2 linked regions of the Homo sapiens genome follow. Changing the gene in region 1 together with any one later gene gives a genetic interaction. Each region holds a gene or a part of one and is shown in the gene's direction. Other genes may lie near its edges.

Evidence for each region. A genetic interaction does not mean that the proteins touch.
Region 2: changes in MMP2 (region 1) and PAK4 impair growth when combined (synthetic growth defect), as found in Homo sapiens cells (one study listed by BioGRID).

The regions. Positions count from the first base shown.
Region 1 is NC_000016.10:55,474,211-55,482,197, forward strand, and holds the start of MMP2 (72 kDa type IV collagenase isoform 1 preproprotein), read left to right. Parts: upstream 1-4,987; 5' UTR 4,988-5,269; coding exon 5,270-5,422; intron 5,423-5,787; exon of another isoform or gene 5,788-5,845; intron 5,846-6,322; exon of another isoform or gene 6,323-6,387; intron 6,388-7,346; exon of another isoform or gene 7,347-7,665; coding exon of another isoform or gene 7,666-7,668; intron 7,669-7,987.
Region 2 is NC_000019.10:39,128,084-39,136,812, forward strand, and holds part of PAK4 (serine/threonine-protein kinase PAK 4), read left to right. Parts: intron 1-6,103; exon of another isoform or gene 6,104-7,121; intron 7,122-8,338; exon of another isoform or gene 8,339-8,480; intron 8,481-8,729. UniProt on the Homo sapiens protein: Serine/threonine-protein kinase that plays a role in a variety of different signaling pathways including cytoskeleton regulation, cell adhesion turnover, cell migration, growth, proliferation or cell survival.

The DNA.
Region 1 (7,987 bases):
TCACCTGAACACTTAGAGGCCATTGTAGAGTTATTAACTGGCCTCATTTTGATATTGTTGATTGTAGGGTCTAGGGAGGCCCACAGAAAGGGAGAGAAATGAGGAATGGCCAGTCAGTTGGTAAAGCAGTCAGAACACACACATTTACAAGGGTGATTTAGTTCACCCTTGTATATGGGCACAGTTTGTTTTCACTCACGTCCATCTGAAGAGACCACCAAACAGGCTTTCTGTGAGCAACAAGGCTGTTTATTTCACCTGGGTGCAGGCGGGTTGAGTCCAAAAGGAGAGTCAGCGAAGGGAGATAGGGGTGGGGCCGTTTTATAGGATTTGGGTAGGTAAAGGAAAATTACAGTCAAAGGGGAGTTGTTCTCTGGCGGGCAGGGGTGGGGGGTCACAAGGTGCTCAGCAGGGGAGCTTTTGAGCCAGGATGAGCCAGGAGAAGGAATTCCACAAGGTAATGTCATCAGTTAAGGCAGGGACTGGCCATTTTCACTTCTTTTGTGGTGGAATGTCATCAGTTAAGGCAGGAACAGGCCATCTGGATGTATACGTGCAGGTCACAGGGGATATGATGGCTTAGCTTGGGCTTGGAGGCCTGACATTTGTGGCACTTCAAAACAATTAACTAGTAAGATCAGAGATCACTGATCACAGATCACTATAACAGATATAATAACAATGAAAAATTTGGAAATATGGCAAGAATTACCAAAATGTGACACGGAGACAGGAAGTGAGCACATGCTAATGGAAAAATGACATCAGTAAGCTTGCTTGACGCAGGGTAGTCACAAACCTTCAATTTGCAAAATTGCTATCTCTGCACAGCACAGTAGGGCAAAGTGTGAATAAAATGAGGTAACCTGTACCTCCAGCTAAAGTCCCAGAATTAACTTTCCTTGGCTCCAGTGGATTCACAAGCCGGTATCTGAATCATCACCTCACCAAGATGCCTGGATCTGCCTTTTAGCCCAGCTTGGGTCACATTGCCACTGTGGAGCCAGGAGGTGGGTCACATCTGCTGAATTCAGACCTAGAGTTGGGGAGAAGTAGCTTCCCAATGGGAAACTAAGGGGCAGCTACTAAAAGTAGGAGGACAGGGTCTTGGGAAGGCTTACATGGCACACGGCCACTACCTCCCTCAATGCTCTGTCCCCTGCTTAGTGTCCCGCACTGTAATTTCTGCCTCTTCATCAATAAAACACCACCTTAATGCCACTGTACCCCAGCACCAAAAACAGTGTTCATCAAAAACTTCCCGAATAAATGACAGAATTCATGTCATATCGCGACGTCTTCTAATCACAGCCTGCGTAGTTTTCTGGGGCTGCTGTAAAAAAGCACTACAGACTGGGTGGCTTACAACAGAAATTTATTCTCTCAGAGCTCTGAGACTAGAAGTCCAAAACCAACATGTCAGCAGGGCCACGCTCCCTCTGAAGCCTCTGGGGGAAGAATTCCTTCTTGTCTCTTCTAGCTTCTGGGTTGCAGGCAACTCCTTGGGTTGCAGGCATTGCTCCAATTTCTGCCTCCATGGTCACATGGAGTTCTTCTTGCTGTGTGTCTCTGTGTCCAAAGTTTTGTCTTCTTATCATGACAACAGGCTTTGGATTAGAGCCCACTCATCTTAACTTGATTGTATCTGCAAAGACCCTATTTCCATGTGAGGGCACAGTCACAGGCATTGGGACTTGAACATATCTTTTTGGCAACACAATTATATCCACTAAACAGCATTTTTGCATCTATATTAAGAATGACTAAAAGATGCTGCAGTAACAAACATATCCCAAAAGCTCCATGGTTCGTTGCCTAAGAGTTTGTTTTTCACTTACGAAGTCTGTAGTGGGTCTGGTTGCTTTCATTTTACGACTTTGCTAGATCAACACAGGGCTCCCAGGGTTACCGTGGCAGGGGAAGAGAGATATACAGGAGTGCACAGGGGCCCTGGAGCATATTGCATGTGCTCACCAACAAGCCCATTATCATCAGATACTGCCTGTTCTCTCCTCGTCCCCTGGGCCATTCTAGGCCCCAAGTGAGGGTTCTTGGATCTCACACAAGAAGGAATTTGAGGCAAGTCCATAAAGTGAAAGCAAGTTTATTAAGAAAGTAAGGGAATAAAAGAATGGCTATTTCATCGGCAGATCAGCCCCAAAAGCTGCTGGTTGCCCATTTTTATGGTTATTTCTTGATTATATGCTAAACAAGGGGTAAATTATTCATGCTTCTGCCTTTTAGGCCGTATAGGATAACTTCCTGACGTTGCCATGGCATATGTAAACAGTCGTGGCGCTGGTGGGAGTGTGGCAGTAAGGCTGACCAGAGGTTTTTCTCATCATCATCTTGGTTTTGGTGGGTCTTGGCCAGCTTCTTTACTGCAACCTGTTTTATCAGCAAGGTCTTTATGACCTGTATCTTGTGCCAGCCTCCTATCTCATTTCGTGATTAGGATTGCCTTAATTTACTGGTAATGCAGGCCAGCAGGTCTTAGTCTAACCCCTATTCAAGATGGAGTTGCTCTGGTTCCAATGCCTCTGACATAGTCATTGCTGGGCACAGAAGCCTCTCTCTCACTGAGTGCTGCTTCTGCAGCCATTGCCATCTCTGAATGGGCACCAAGCCCCACACTGGAAACCGATACCCTTGGAATGCCAAAACCACAGAGGCTGTGAAGAGGTACAGTCAAAGCTGCCCTCTGCCAGAGGAGCTCCAAAGCATGTTATGCAGACTCCAGAGACTTTCTGAAAAGGTTAAAACTCAAATTGGGCAAGTGTAAATGAACAACACCTAGTGAAGGGAGTCACATACAAGGCAATACAATAGAGAGTGGTGAGGACTGTGGCAAACCAAAGTATGTGCCTCATCTAAAGGGAGCAGTCACTACTCAACTTCAGCAAATTATTGCCATATGGAAACTGGCATCCAGTATTGCCAGATTTTTGGGAAATTTTTTTAAAAAAAGAAAACCAGAAAGTCAGATTTTTACATGAAGTTTCCCAAATTTCAAAATGCTGTTCAGGCTGGATTTAGCCCACAGGCCACGAGTTTGCAGCCCCTGCTTTAGTGAGATAACTTTTTCCATTTTCACTCTCAGCTCTCAGCTCTCCAACTTGGCTCTCTGGCTATCCACAGGACGTGGACATGAGCCCAGTGGGGCTGGGCCAGGAGGCAATCCCCCTTCCCAACTGACCTCAGTCTCGCCCTCTCCAAAACAGCCAAGGTTTGTCACTGGGTCAGGCTGAAGGGCCTGGCTCCCTCCTGCGGGGCAAGGTCCCTCCCAAGAGGGTCCTTTAAAACTGACTCTGGAAAGTCAGAGCACACACCCACCAGACAAGCCTGAACTTGTCTGAAGCCCACTGAGACCCAAGCCGCAGAGACTTTTCTAGCTGTGATGATCAAGACATAATCGTGACCTCCAATGCCCCCCACAAGTATATTGCTCCTGATTCTTTCAGCCCCTGACCTTACTTCTCAAACTGTTCCCTGCTGACCCCCAGTCCTATCTGCCCCCTTCCTAGGCTGGTCCTTACTGACCCCTCCAGCTCCATCCCCTCACCCTGTGCCCCACCTTTTTCAGATAGAAAAAACTTTCTTCTCCAGTGCCTCTTGCTGTTTTTCATCTCTGGGCCATTGTCAATGTTCCCTAAAACATTCCCCATATTCCCCACCCAGCACTCCACCTCTTTAGCTCTTCAGGTCTCAGCTCAGAAGTCACTTCTTCCAGGAAGCCTTCCTTGATTGTCTTTACTAGTTTAGGGGCTGAAGTCAGGCGTTCCCAACAGCCTGCTGGAGTTCCCCATCACAGCTTATCTCTCAACTGTCTTTCCTGAGAGAGGGAGAAGACATTCCTCAGAGACGGTTGTCACAGGGAGAACTTCAAAATTGGGATTCGACCTGAGAGGCCACATGGATTCTTGGCTTGGCGCAGGAAAGGATTCAAGAGTGAGTGGGGAATTCGTGGAACTGAGGGCTCCTCCCCTTTTTAGACCATATAGGGTAAACCTCCCCACATTGCCATGGCATTTATAAACTGCCATGGCACTGGTGGGTGCTTCCTTTAACATGCTAATGCATTATAATTAGCGTAAAATGAGCAGTGAGGATGACCAGAGGTCGCTTTCTTTGCCATCTTGGTTTTGGCTGGCTTCTTCACTGCATACTGTTTTATCAGTGGGGTCTTTGTGACCTCTATCTTATTAAACCAGTCTTGCCCAATTTCTATCTCATCCTGTGACCGAGAATGCGGACCCTCCTGGGAGTGCAGCCCAGCAGGTCTCAGCCTCATTTTACCCAGCCCCCTGTTCAAGATGGAGTCGCTCTGGTTCCAACGTCTCTAACGCGGGGCCCCTGACTGCTCTATTTCCCAAGGTGTATCTAGCATCTCGCACTATACGAGGCCAAGTTAAGGCTTACACATTTGCAGAAGGAAAGAGGTAAGGAAGCAACCTGGGACCTTCCACTGTCTCTGTTTCCATCTCTCTCTTTCCATCTCTGTTCATCCCAGAATCTCTCTGTCCCTATCCCTAAATATCGAAAATTTCTGTCTCTGACCATCTATCATTGTGGCTGATCATCTGTTTCTGACCATTCCTTCCCGTTCCTGACCCCAGGGAGTGCAGGGTGTCCTAGCCAAGCCGGCGTCCCTCCTAGTAGTACCGCTGCTCTCTAACCTCAGGACGTCAAGGGCCTAGAGCGACAGATGTTTCCCAGCAGGGGGTTCTGAGGCTGTGCGCCCAGATCGCGAGAGAGGCAAGTGGGGTGACGAGGTCGTGCACTGAGGGTGGACGTAGAGGCCAGGAGTAGCAGGCGGCCGGGGAAAAGAGGTGGAGAAAGGAAAAAAGAGGAGAAAAGTGGAGGAGGGCGAGTAGGGGGGTGGGGCAGAGAGGGGCGGGCCCGAGTGCGCCCCCCGCCCCCAGCCCCGCTCTGCCAGCTCCCTCCCAGCCCAGCCGGCTACATCTGGCGGCTGCCCTCCCTTGTTTCCGCTGCATCCAGACTTCCTCAGGCGGTGGCTGGAGGCTGCGCATCTGGGGCTTTAAACATACAAAGGGATTGCCAGGACCTGCGGCGGCGGCGGCGGCGGCGGGGGCTGGGGCGCGGGGGCCGGACCATGAGCCGCTGAGCCGGGCAAACCCCAGGCCACCGAGCCAGCGGACCCTCGGAGCGCAGCCCTGCGCCGCGGAGCAGGCTCCAACCAGGCGGCGAGGCGGCCACACGCACCGAGCCAGCGACCCCCGGGCGACGCGCGGGGCCAGGGAGCGCTACGATGGAGGCGCTAATGGCCCGGGGCGCGCTCACGGGTCCCCTGAGGGCGCTCTGTCTCCTGGGCTGCCTGCTGAGCCACGCCGCCGCCGCGCCGTCGCCCATCATCAAGTTCCCCGGCGATGTCGCCCCCAAAACGGACAAAGAGTTGGCAGTGGTGAGTTGCTGCGCTGGCCTCAAGGAACCACGTTTAGACAAACTTCGGAGGCAAAGGATGGGGGTGTCTCTCCCCCTGCCCTCGGCGGTGGGCACACAGCGTGGGGGAGGGGCTTCGGTAAACAGCTTGGGGGGTCTTTGGCAAGCTATTGGAGTGATCTCTTGCAAACGGTGGGGGATCTTTTGTAAGCAAAGAAAACCTTTGATAAACAATTTGGCAACCTTCAGCATACAGCAGTGGGGCGAAAAACAAGCCAGAGAGTGGGAGAGGGGTGACCTGGCAAACTACTGGAAAGGGACTCTTATGTAAATAGCGGGGACATCCTCTAGTATCTGGGACATTTGGCGGGGGGGGGGGGCGGTCTTTGTAAACAACTTTTGGACACATCTGGGCAGTTGCTAAGGGCTCTTGCCAAGCGTCTAGGTAAGCCTTTGGCAAACAGCTACAGGGGTCGTTTTTGCTAATGTAGGACTTTGGGAACGGTGCTCTGGCACACAATTTGGGTAAACTTATGCGCGCATAAGGATGGGAGGGAGCTTGGTCAAAGCGGGGCTTGGCAAATTTCTAGGAACCTTCGGCACAGATCCGGAGAGGGACCTTTAAACAAACAGCTCGAGGGGGCCATTTGGGAAGTGATTGGGGCAGGAGGGAAGCAGAGAGCGCATCTTTTTTCTCCTGGCTTAATGGACAAATTGGTCAAGGGCTGGGCCTCGGAAAGTTTCCTCGAACTTCTCCAAAGGGTCGGAGAAAAGAAGGAGAGAGCTGGCCCGGCAGGAGGGAGGAGGAGTGGGGCAGGCGCTGGAGGGCCCGGCGCGTGGGGCGGGGGCGGACTGCGCTCCGCTCGGGTCGGAGAGCGGCCAGAGAGCCCTCCTTCCTGGCTGGGCTCCCAAACCGCGGTTCAGATGTTGTCTTGTGAGCGTGCGCGCGCCTGGCTGGAGGGGCACTGAGCCTGGCCGCAGTGTTGCGTAAGTAGGGCCTGAGGAGAGAGGCAGGCCAGGGACCCATCAAGATGTCCTTTCCAGTCCAGGGGATATCTGCTCCCTTGTTGCTTCAGCCACCCTGCCCTCCAGCCTCCCCCTCAACCTGTCCGGGAGAAGACGCCCATGCCCTCTGGTCACCCTAGGAACTCCTTCAGGAGGTGACAACTACCCTCTCCCAACTCTCACCCTTCCAAACAGCTAGGTCTCAGCCCCCTCTGGATAGATGGGTTGGGAAACCTCCATACATTTTTAGAGGGCTACTTTTTTCAAGGATCTGGAGCTGGCTGGCATAATGATGTGGCTGTTGGGTGGGGGTGAGAGTGGAGCTTTGGGACAATGACAAAGCTACTTGGTTTCCTACACCTTTTCCAGCCAATGGGTCACAGGATGAACCCCTAAATTGGGGTTCAGCCTGGGGGCCACATGGGTTCTTGGCTTGCACAGGAAGGAATTCAAGAGCGAGCCAACAGAGTAAAGTGAAAACAAATTTATTAAGAAGGTAAAGGAATAAAAGGGTGATTATTCCATAGACAGAGCAGGGAATGGGCTGCTGGACTGAGTATACATATGGTTATTTCTTGATTATATGCTAAACAAGGGGTGGATTATTTAAGAGTTTTCCAGAAAAAGGGTGGGGAGTTCCTGGAACCGAGGGTTTCTCTCCCTTTTAGACCATATAGGGTAACTTCTCAATGTTGCTATGGCATTTATAAACTGTCACAGCGCTGGTGGGAGTGTCTAATGTATTTAACATGCTAATACATTATAATTAGCATATAATGAGCAGTGAGGACGACTAGAGGTCACTTTCATTGCAGTCTTGGTTTGGGTGGGCTTTCTCCAGCTTCTTTACTGCATCCTGTTTTATCATAGGGGTCTTTGTGACCCGAACTGTATATGGTGAAATCAGTCCTACCAACCTCCTGTCTCATTCTGTGACTAAGAATGCATGCCTGCCCTCCTGGGAATGAAGCACAGCAGGTCTCAGCCTCATCTTACCCAGCCCCCCACTCAAGATGGAGGTGCCTGGTTTGAACACCTCTGACAAATGGAAGTCTGTGTTGTCCAGAGGCAATGCAGTGGGGGCTTAAGAAGATAACTCTGGACTTAGACCGCTTGGCTTCAAATCAAAGAGTGCATGAACCAACCAGCTGGCCTAGTGATGATGTTAGGCAAGTGACTTCTCAGTTTCTTCATCTGCAAACTGGGAAATTTCCTATCTCAGGGTTAAAAGAGAGGTAATCTTAGGTGCTTACCTAGCACATGGTAAGTACTCAATAAGCACTAGCCATTATTCTATTATATTATTATTATTGTTATGTCCTCCATTTCCCCTTTCCTAACTACTTCCAACAAGGCTAGGACCGTTGTCAGAAGATCTCCTGGCTCCTTTCAACATTCTAACACAGTACTTATCACATACTTCATTTTGTTTTATTTGGGATCTATCAGCCTCCCTGCTAGGATTTGAACCTTAGAGACAGAATTGTCTATCTTTTTCACCTGTTTTTCCTCAGCAGTAGCACTGGGCTTGGTACATGGTAGGTATTAAAAAGTATTTGTTGAATAAATAAATGAGTCGGTT
Region 2 (8,729 bases), on another chromosome or scaffold:
TGGGCCAGAGATGCCTGGTACACACCCCTCTCCATCACTCACAGAGCATGTGAGGACCTCCGTTTCCACTTCTGCAAGATGGGCATAGTGTTAGCGCTGCCTCATAGAATTGCTGTGAGGATGCAGGCTAGAGAGCCTTGGCCCAAGGCCTGGCATACAGTAGTTGCTGTGTAAGCATTAGTCTTGCTGCTGCTGCTGCTGCCACCCCACCACTGCCTGGGGAGGGCCTCAGAGACAGTGGAGGCCCTCGCTCCACCTGCCTCCTGGCTTTCTCTGGCAGCCACCCCATCCCTACCTGGCTCTGGCAGGGTCAGGGAGCCGGCACACTGCCAGGCAGCCCTCTGAGGCTGGCCCAGCCTCCCAGCCTTGCAGTGCCAGCTCACTCAGCATCTCAGGGTTTGGCACAGATAAAGAAGGATAGGGTTTGGGCATTGGAGACCCATATTCAGGTCCCTCCCTTGTCACTTACCAGCCATGGGACAAATGATTTATTTGCCACTTTTATTCCTTCAACACGTTTGGCTAGGGGAAAAAGGGCTTTCAGTATAATGAAACACTCATGCATCCGGCCATCGTCTGGCCTGGGACAGAACACACCGTGATACAGTTAGAGGCCAAGGGTCTCCTCCTCACCCCCCCTCCTCCCTCCCTTCCAGGGGCAGCCTCTGTCCTGGGTGTGGCAGTCACCATTCCTCTGCAGCCTTTCATACTTTGACTGCCCTTGAATGTATTCACCAACAGTAGAGCAACAGCTCTTGCCCCTGGCTGCACATTGCAACTCCCTGGAGAGCTTTGAAAAGATGCCTTGGCCCAGGCCCGCCATGGAAATTCTGCTTCCAACTTACTTGGTCTGGGCTGGGGCTGGCCTCAGGCTTTTGGAAGCTCCCTGGGCAGTTCTTATGGCCAGCAGGGGCTGACGACTGTTGTTTCACAGTTCAGATAAATGGTGTCACCATAAACATGCCTTTCTGCAAGTTGCTGTTTTTGTTCAACATTATAGGTATATTTGAGATGGGATCTTGCTATGTTGCCTAGACTGGACTCTTAACTCCTGGGCTCAAGCTATCCTCCCACCTCAGCCTCTGGAGTAGCTGGGATTACAGGCGCGCACACCTGCTCCCCGCTTTGAGCTGAGCATTGGAGTCTGGATGTCTCTTGGTGGGGATGTGTGTAGGCCTGGGACAGGCCATTTGTTTTTCCTGATGGTGTTTCTTTTTGTGATCGTGTCACACAGGAGTTGCCTGTTCACCTGTTGATGGCCACTGAGGTGGTCCGTTGGAGCTATAACCGTGCAGCAGTGGGCCTTCTGGAACGCGTGTTCCTGTAGACCATGGCCAGAGTCTCTCTGGCATATGCCTAGTAGTGGAAAAGCCGGAGCTCCCCGCTTTCCTAGCGGTTGCCAAGTCATGCCCCCAGTGGCTGGACCACTGTGCTCCCCAGCAGGCTCCGGGGCTCCCTTTATTTCAAGTCCTGCTTTGGGCAGCTTTGTGGCCCTCACTGAAACGATTTCCTCGGCCGTGACATGGGAGGTTTATGGGCCCACCCACCCACCCACCAGGCTGTTTGGAAACAGATGGGGAGATGGTTCACACAACTGGCTTAGCTGGGACCTCGTCCCCACTGACTCCCTACAACCACAGGAGAAGAAAGGATGGAAGGGCTTTCACCTTTACCCCCTTGGGCATCCAGGACGGTGACTGCAGCTTTGCCCCAACTGCCCTTGGGGGCAGGTGCCAGGGGTGACAGCTGGGAAAGAGAACTATACTGATTCGAACCTCTCAGGAGGGAGGCAGGGAGGACGGAGGTGAAAGTTGGAGGATGGGTGAGGCCTTGTAACATTCTTTCTGTGTATCTGACTGTTGGTCCCAGTGGTAACCAACACAGCCCAGCTCTACCCTTGTAGATTATAGTACAGTGAAGGAGACAGACCTGCTGTCCCCAGACGGTGACAGCCCAGAGAGGCCAGGGCTGTGAAGGAGAGGCCTAGGCGAGGGTCAGGGCGGGATGTGGGGGGGACCCAGGCAGAAGGGTCAGGGCGGGATGTGGGGGGGACCCAGGCAGAGGGGTCAGGGTGGGGTGGTGGGACCCAGGCAGATGGGTCATGGCGGGATGGGAGCGGGGACCCAGGCAGAGGGATCAGGGTGGGACTGGGGGGGACCCAGGCAGAGTGGTCAGAGAAGGATGGGGAAACCCAGGCAGAGGGGTCAGGGCGGGATGGGGAAACCCAGGCAGAGGGGTTGGGGCTGGATGGTGGGGAGGGGCACAGAGAGGGATTGGGACTGGGATGGAGGCGCAGGGACCGTAGGAAGCCCGAGGAGGCATGTGGCCCAGCGTGGGGAGTTGAGGAGGGCTTTCTGGATAAGATGACATCTGACTGATGAGAACATATGAGCGAGGCTGGAAGGAGGTGGAAAGAATGTAACAGGTCATGGGTACGGAAGTGCCAAGGCCCTGAGGGTCGGAATGACCTCGGAATGGTCGAGGATCATCAGATAGGCCGGTGTAGGCTATGCTGTGCACCCTGACTGTGTGGTAGCCTTGCTCTGCAAAGAGCAGTTAAAGAAATACATAAAATATAAAATAAATAAATAAATAAAAAAGCAAAAAAAAGAAGCCAGTGTGGCTGAGCAGGGGGTGGGGTCAGAGGCTTGGAGGCGGTGTTGGATACAGCAGGGCCTAGCAGAGCCAGGTGGGGTGTGTGGATTCCATTCTGTGCATAATGGGAAGTCATCAGAGGCTTTAGTGACATCTGGTTTTCCCCTTATAAAGATTGCTCAGGCTGCTGTGTGGGGGACGGATCGCGGGGGGTGGCGACAGGGAGGCTGTGGGGAGGCTGCTGTGACAGTCCAAGCAGAAGAGGGTGGAGAAGACGAGGGGACAGTGATGGAGGAGCGTCCTCGTGCCAGCTGAGGTCATCAGCGCTTTACCCCTGTTACCTCACTTCATCTTCACAGCAACCTGTGAAGTAGGTGCTAGTATCATCCTCACTCTAGAGATGAGAAAGGAGGCCCAGAGAGGTACGGGACTTGCTTAAGGTCACACAGCAGGCAGTGGCAGAGGTAGGATTGAACCCCAGGCCTTGGGGCTTCAGTGTCACTGATTACTGGGGCTGCCCTCCCGTGGTTTGGAACTGGCTCGGACAAGACAGGCCTGATTCCTGTTCAGCTGGTTCTTACCCAGGCTCCTTTGTTGACAGAAGTTCCGTGGAGACCTGTTCCCCCTGGGTAGTTTCTGGGCGCTGGGTCCCTACCTCCCTCAGGGCCTCCCTTTCCTTTCTCATCTACTCCTCGTCCCACTGGCTCGTGGTGAGCCAGACTTCCTGGCCAGACACCGGTCAGGGGTGTCCCCAGCAGCTGTTTCTCCCATCACCGAGCCCAGCCCCGCACATGCTGCCAGCAGGAAGCAACCTCCTTCCAAGTCATGGCCAGGGAAGTGGGACCCTTCCCGCCTAGTCACCCATCCGGGGCCAAGGCTTCTTGTCTGCCAGACGCCTTGGCCCACAGGAAGGTTGGAGGGGCCGAGGAGGGTGAGAAGGGGAACACTCTCCCATCCCAGGGGAGCCAGCGCTGGCGGATGCGACAGAAGCCACCGCTCACTGAAGCCTCTCTCCTGGGACCCTCCGGTCCTGCCCCGACCCTTCCCAGGCTGGGAGGCCATCTGCTGCCTTCCCGAGGGGCAGTGGAACTTCCCTGCCAGGGCTGCTCAGTCCACACACATCCCTTAGCCTTTTTCACTAGCTGGGAGCCCCTGGGGAAGAGACAAAGAACTTCCCTGGGCCTCTGATTCCTCACCTGTTACAGGGAGTATTGGTGGCCACCTCTCAGGGCTGTGGGAGGGCGGAAGATCATGTGTGTGCGTCGTGCTTAGCCCGATGCTCAGCACTCAGTAAGTGCTTGGTAAATGTTGAACTTGGTGCGTTCGATGGTTTCCGTCCCTTGCACCCTGTCCCCCTCTGGGTTCTCATCCCGTAGTGAGCTGTAATAACCCCAGCCCCCCGCCCGGGGTCCCAGCTCCACGTGCCAGGCACGCGTGTGCTGTGAGTCTATGAGCATGGTCATGTGGCTGTACCCAGAGACCCTGAGGAGGAGGTGTTTTTAACCTCGTTTCTCTTTTCCCGTGTTTCAATTTTCAGAAAGCACGTTTTTCCTCCATGTGCATGCATTACCTATTCCCCTAAATAATCACTGAAAAACTGCACACAGCACAAAAGGATGTACAGGGACGAGCAAATCTCTTTCCCACCCGCCTGCCAGGCCCTTCCCAGAGATAGCATCATCACCCCCGGTTTCTTTTCTTTCTTTCTTGAAATATTTGTTCCCCCAAGTGCCCGCCCCTCCCTTTTGTTTTTACTCAAATGGAGCGGACTTCCCATGTTTATATTCTGTCCTGTGCTTTGCGTTTCCCACTCCGAAGCTCGCTGTCAGGACACAGAGTGCCGCCTCGTGTCCCACGCACACGCGTGCCCCCACGGACAGCACAGCCATTCTGTGCTGATGGCCATCAGGCCATTCCCATCTTTCCGTGCTGTGAACAGGGCTGCGCCCGCCTGAGTGTGGCTGTGCATATGTCTCTAGGTGTGAGTCTGAGCTTGTGGCCTCGTGGTCTGAGACAGGTGCCCCGTTAACTTTGCCGGTAGTGTTAGTGTTTCACCCTGCTGGGGAGGTTGTCTGGCTCACACTCCCACCCCCCAGTGTCTGATGACACCGGGGTTTCCTCACTCCCTTGCTGGAATAGACGGGTGTCACCTGACATTCTCACCTTTGCCAGTCAGATAGGTGACAAACAGTCTCATCATGGTTCTGATTTTAATCAGAGCAAAGTGGGACAGCTTTGTGTTGTTGAAAGCCATCTTGAGCTTCCTTTTCTTGGAGCTGTCTATTCCTGATAATTTTACTTTCTCTGAGAAGGGGAAACTGAGGCACAGGCCAGCAGTCCCACAGCAAATACGTGGCAGATGTGGCACTCAAACCTTGGCTCCGTTCTGGAGCTCCTAACCCATCTGACACAGAAGAGGTCAAGGGCTTGGCCTCCGGAGCCAGCTTTGTCTCTTACTAGCAGTGTGACCCCAGACAAGTCACATCACCTCTCTGTGCCCGGGTGTCCTCATCTGTAAAATGAGGGTGCTAATGATATCTACTCTTAGAGTTGTTTTGAGGATCTAAATGTATATTCGGCAGGCAAAATGTATAGTAAGTGCTCAAAGACTGTTAGCTGCGTTACTAATAGCCGTATTATTAATATTATAGCTATGTCACCAATAGCCATGTTATTAATATGAGCAGGCACTGTTTGAGTGCTTTCTGTGAACTAACCTACTGGACCCTCCCATCAACTCCAAGACACACGTGTTCTTAGGATCTCCCTTTTCTAGGGAGGAGACTGAGAGCCTGGGGGACCTGGCCCCGTCACAGAGCAAGAGGAACTGGGATTTGGATGCTGGAGGCCTGGCTGGTAATCGCTGTGGCCGCTTCCCCTGCTACCCGGGGCTAAGCCTGAGGGTTACAAAGCTCTCCCTCCTGCTTCCCCCACCCACCTTCTGCTGTCTGCATTCCAGGCAGGCTGCCCAGGAGCTTTCGAGCAGACACCTTGAGGGTTGGGAGCACCGGGTGGGCAGGGTCCTCACCTAGAGAGCTCCCCGTCCCAGACCCTCCCTGCTCCTGCCACCTGTCCTGGGAACTCCTGATAAAGCAGCATTGTGCAGCGGTTTTGAGTTCACTTCCCAGCCCGGTTTTGCCACTCCCACACTTCACTCCCAGAGGCGGAAGGCGGCCGGTCTTCCTGGGCTGCGTGGGGTGCCAGCCCCCCTCCCCTTCCCTTCCCTCCCTCACTGCGCCCACAGTCACCGGTCAGCACTGGCCATGGGGAGAAAGTAGGACCCTGCGGGCCACTGGCCCCTCCACAGACCCGTCCCCAGGTGAAGACCCCTCCCTGCCCTCCCCACAGGAGGCCCCTGTCCTTCTCTCCCGAGGAACCCTCCTTCCCTGCCGCCCACAGGGGCCTCCATAGTTCTGTCGTCCCTTCCCCGCAAATCTTCCACTGCAGCCTGGGCCCACGTTATTTGACTCTCAAATGCTATATATATACACAGCGCTTCTAACTCCACTGCTTTTAAAAAACCTTTAATAATTGTCAATTATAATATGCCCATAGAAAAGTGCATAAAATGCACAGGTAAGTTTAGCAAAGAATTACAAAGTGAACAACGCTTCCCCACCACCTCGGTAAAGACAGAACACAACCTCCCAAAAGCCGCCTGCCCATAACCCCTGTCCATCACGACCACAGTCGTGAGTGCTCTCCTGACCTTGGTGGTCACTGTGTCCTTGCTTTTCCTGATAGTTTTTACCATGAGGTATGCATCCTTGAATTACAGAATGTCATCTTGCCTGCTTTTGAACTTGACATAAATGGAATCTTCCAGTATGTCCTTGTCTGTGCTTTCTTTCGCCCTTAGGCCTGTGAGATCCATCTGTGTGCTGAGTGTATCTGTAGTCATTCATCTTTGTTGCTGTATAATATTCTTTTTTTTTCTTTGACACAGAGTCTCGCTCTGTCACCCAGGCTGGAGTGCAGTGGTGCAATCTTGGCTCACTGCAGCCTCTGCCTCCTGGGTTCAAGCGATTCACCTGCCTCAGCCTCCCGAGTAACTGGGATTACAGGCATACACCGCTATGCCTGGCTAATTTTTTTTTTTAATTTTTAGTAGAGAGGGGGTTTCACCACGTTGGCCAGGCGAGTCTTGAACTCTTGACCTCAGGTGATCCACCCACCTCAGCTTCCCAAAGTGCCGGCATTACAGGCGTGAGCCACTGTGCCCAGCCCCATATAATATTCTGTTCCTCCATCTCCTGCTGCGCTGATGCGAGCCATCTCTTTGTAGCATCTCCTGGGGTGCCGGTGCCTGCGTTTCTTCAGGGAATATACCCAGGAGTGCGTAGCCCAGGGCAGAGGGTGGGGTAGCTTCAGATTTAGTGGGCGCTGCCACACAGCCTCCCAAGGTGGTCAAATCTGTGTATCCTCCTAGCGGTGGTGACTGAGGATCTTAGTTGCTCCACCTCCTCACCAACATTTGGTACCGTCAGACTTTTTGGTTGACCTTGGAACATTTTTATTCTTTTTTCCTGCAAAAGTAACACCACTGGTTATCATCGGGCTGAGCCCCTCATGTTATTTTGTCCTCCCCTTGCTCCTGTCCATTCCGACTCTCACCCATTCTGTGGACAGGAGTCAAGTGCTTATTCTTTTTTTTTTTTTTTTTTTTTTTTTTTTTGAGATGGAGCCTTGCTCTGTCACCAGGGCTGGAGTGCAGCAGCGCGATCTCAGCTCACTGCAACCTCCGCTTCCCAGATCCAAGCCATTCTCCTCCCTCACCCCCTCAAGTAGCTGGGATTACAGGCATGTGCCACCACGCACGGCTAATTTTGTATTTTTAGTAGAGACAGGGTTTTACCATGTTGGCCAGGCAGGTCTCAAACTCCTGACTTCAAGGGATCCACCTGCCTCAGCCTCCCAAGGTGCTGGGATTACAGACGTGAGCCACTGCGCCCTGCCCAAGCGTGTATTCTTTGACCAGCTTTGCGCTGGGGCCCAGCGACTGAAGGGTGAACCCAAACAACAGGCAGCCCTCCCCGAGCTCAGTCCAGTGGGAACACAGACCTCGACTGCAGAGCAACAGAAAGATAAGCCGGGCTGGAGGCTCCCGGCCCCCATCTTCCCACAGTGACCCCATTTTGGGAACAGGAACCCCCATCCCTCGTCTTGTTTCGGGATTAGGCTTCTCCAAATCTGGCACCCTATCACCTTGACTCCTCTCTTGCCCCCCCGCCACATCCAAAGTGTCTGGAAAGCCTGTCACTCTACATGACAATGTAACCTGGTGCTGCGGGCTCCTCTTCCTTGTCACTCCCCTTCCTCGTCATCCCCCTTCTTCGTCACCCCCCTTCCTCGCCACCCCCTTCCTGGTCACACCTCTTCCTCGTCACCCTTCTTCCTTGTCACCCCTCTTCCTCGTCACCCCCCTTCCTCATCATCCCCCTTCCTCGTTACCCCCCTTCCTTGTTACCCTTCTTCCTCGTGGCCCCCTAGTTCAAGCCACCCTCATCTCCCTCCTGGACCATTGAGGCGTGCTCCCTGCTCCCTTCTCCCCCACTGTCCCCACAGTTGTCCGCACACAGCCAGAGGTAGCCGTGCACACCTGGTCAGGGCAGGAACCCTCCCCTGGCTCCACCTCTCCCAGCAGAGAAGCTTGCAAGGTCCCAGGCAACCTGGCCACTTTCCTGCCTGCCCTGCTTCCCTCTTCTCCTGCCACCATTCCTGGAACATTCCAGGCAGGTCCTACCCCGGGGCCTTTGTTCTTGCTGCCCCCTGGGCAGGCAGCACCCTCCTTCCTTCTGTTCAGTCAGCCTCTGCTGACAGTGGCCCCCTTGGGGAGATGTTTCTTCCCGACCATGGGTCCCCAGGAGCAGCCCCTGTCACCCTCCCTCTAGCACCTTCCCCCGGTAACCCTCATGATGGTTACTTCCATTATGACATGTGGGTCTGTTGGTTTATTTTGTCTCCCGGCATAACGTAGCCTCAGGGCATGGGGGTAGGGGTAGAACCACAGGGCCTTGCCCTGCCCCTTGCTATGTTCTCAGGGATTGGAGTGTGGTAGTCTCTCAGTAAATGCTGGTTGACTGACTGACTGACTGACTGACTGAACTGTAGTAAGCTGGGCTGCCAGAGCGTCT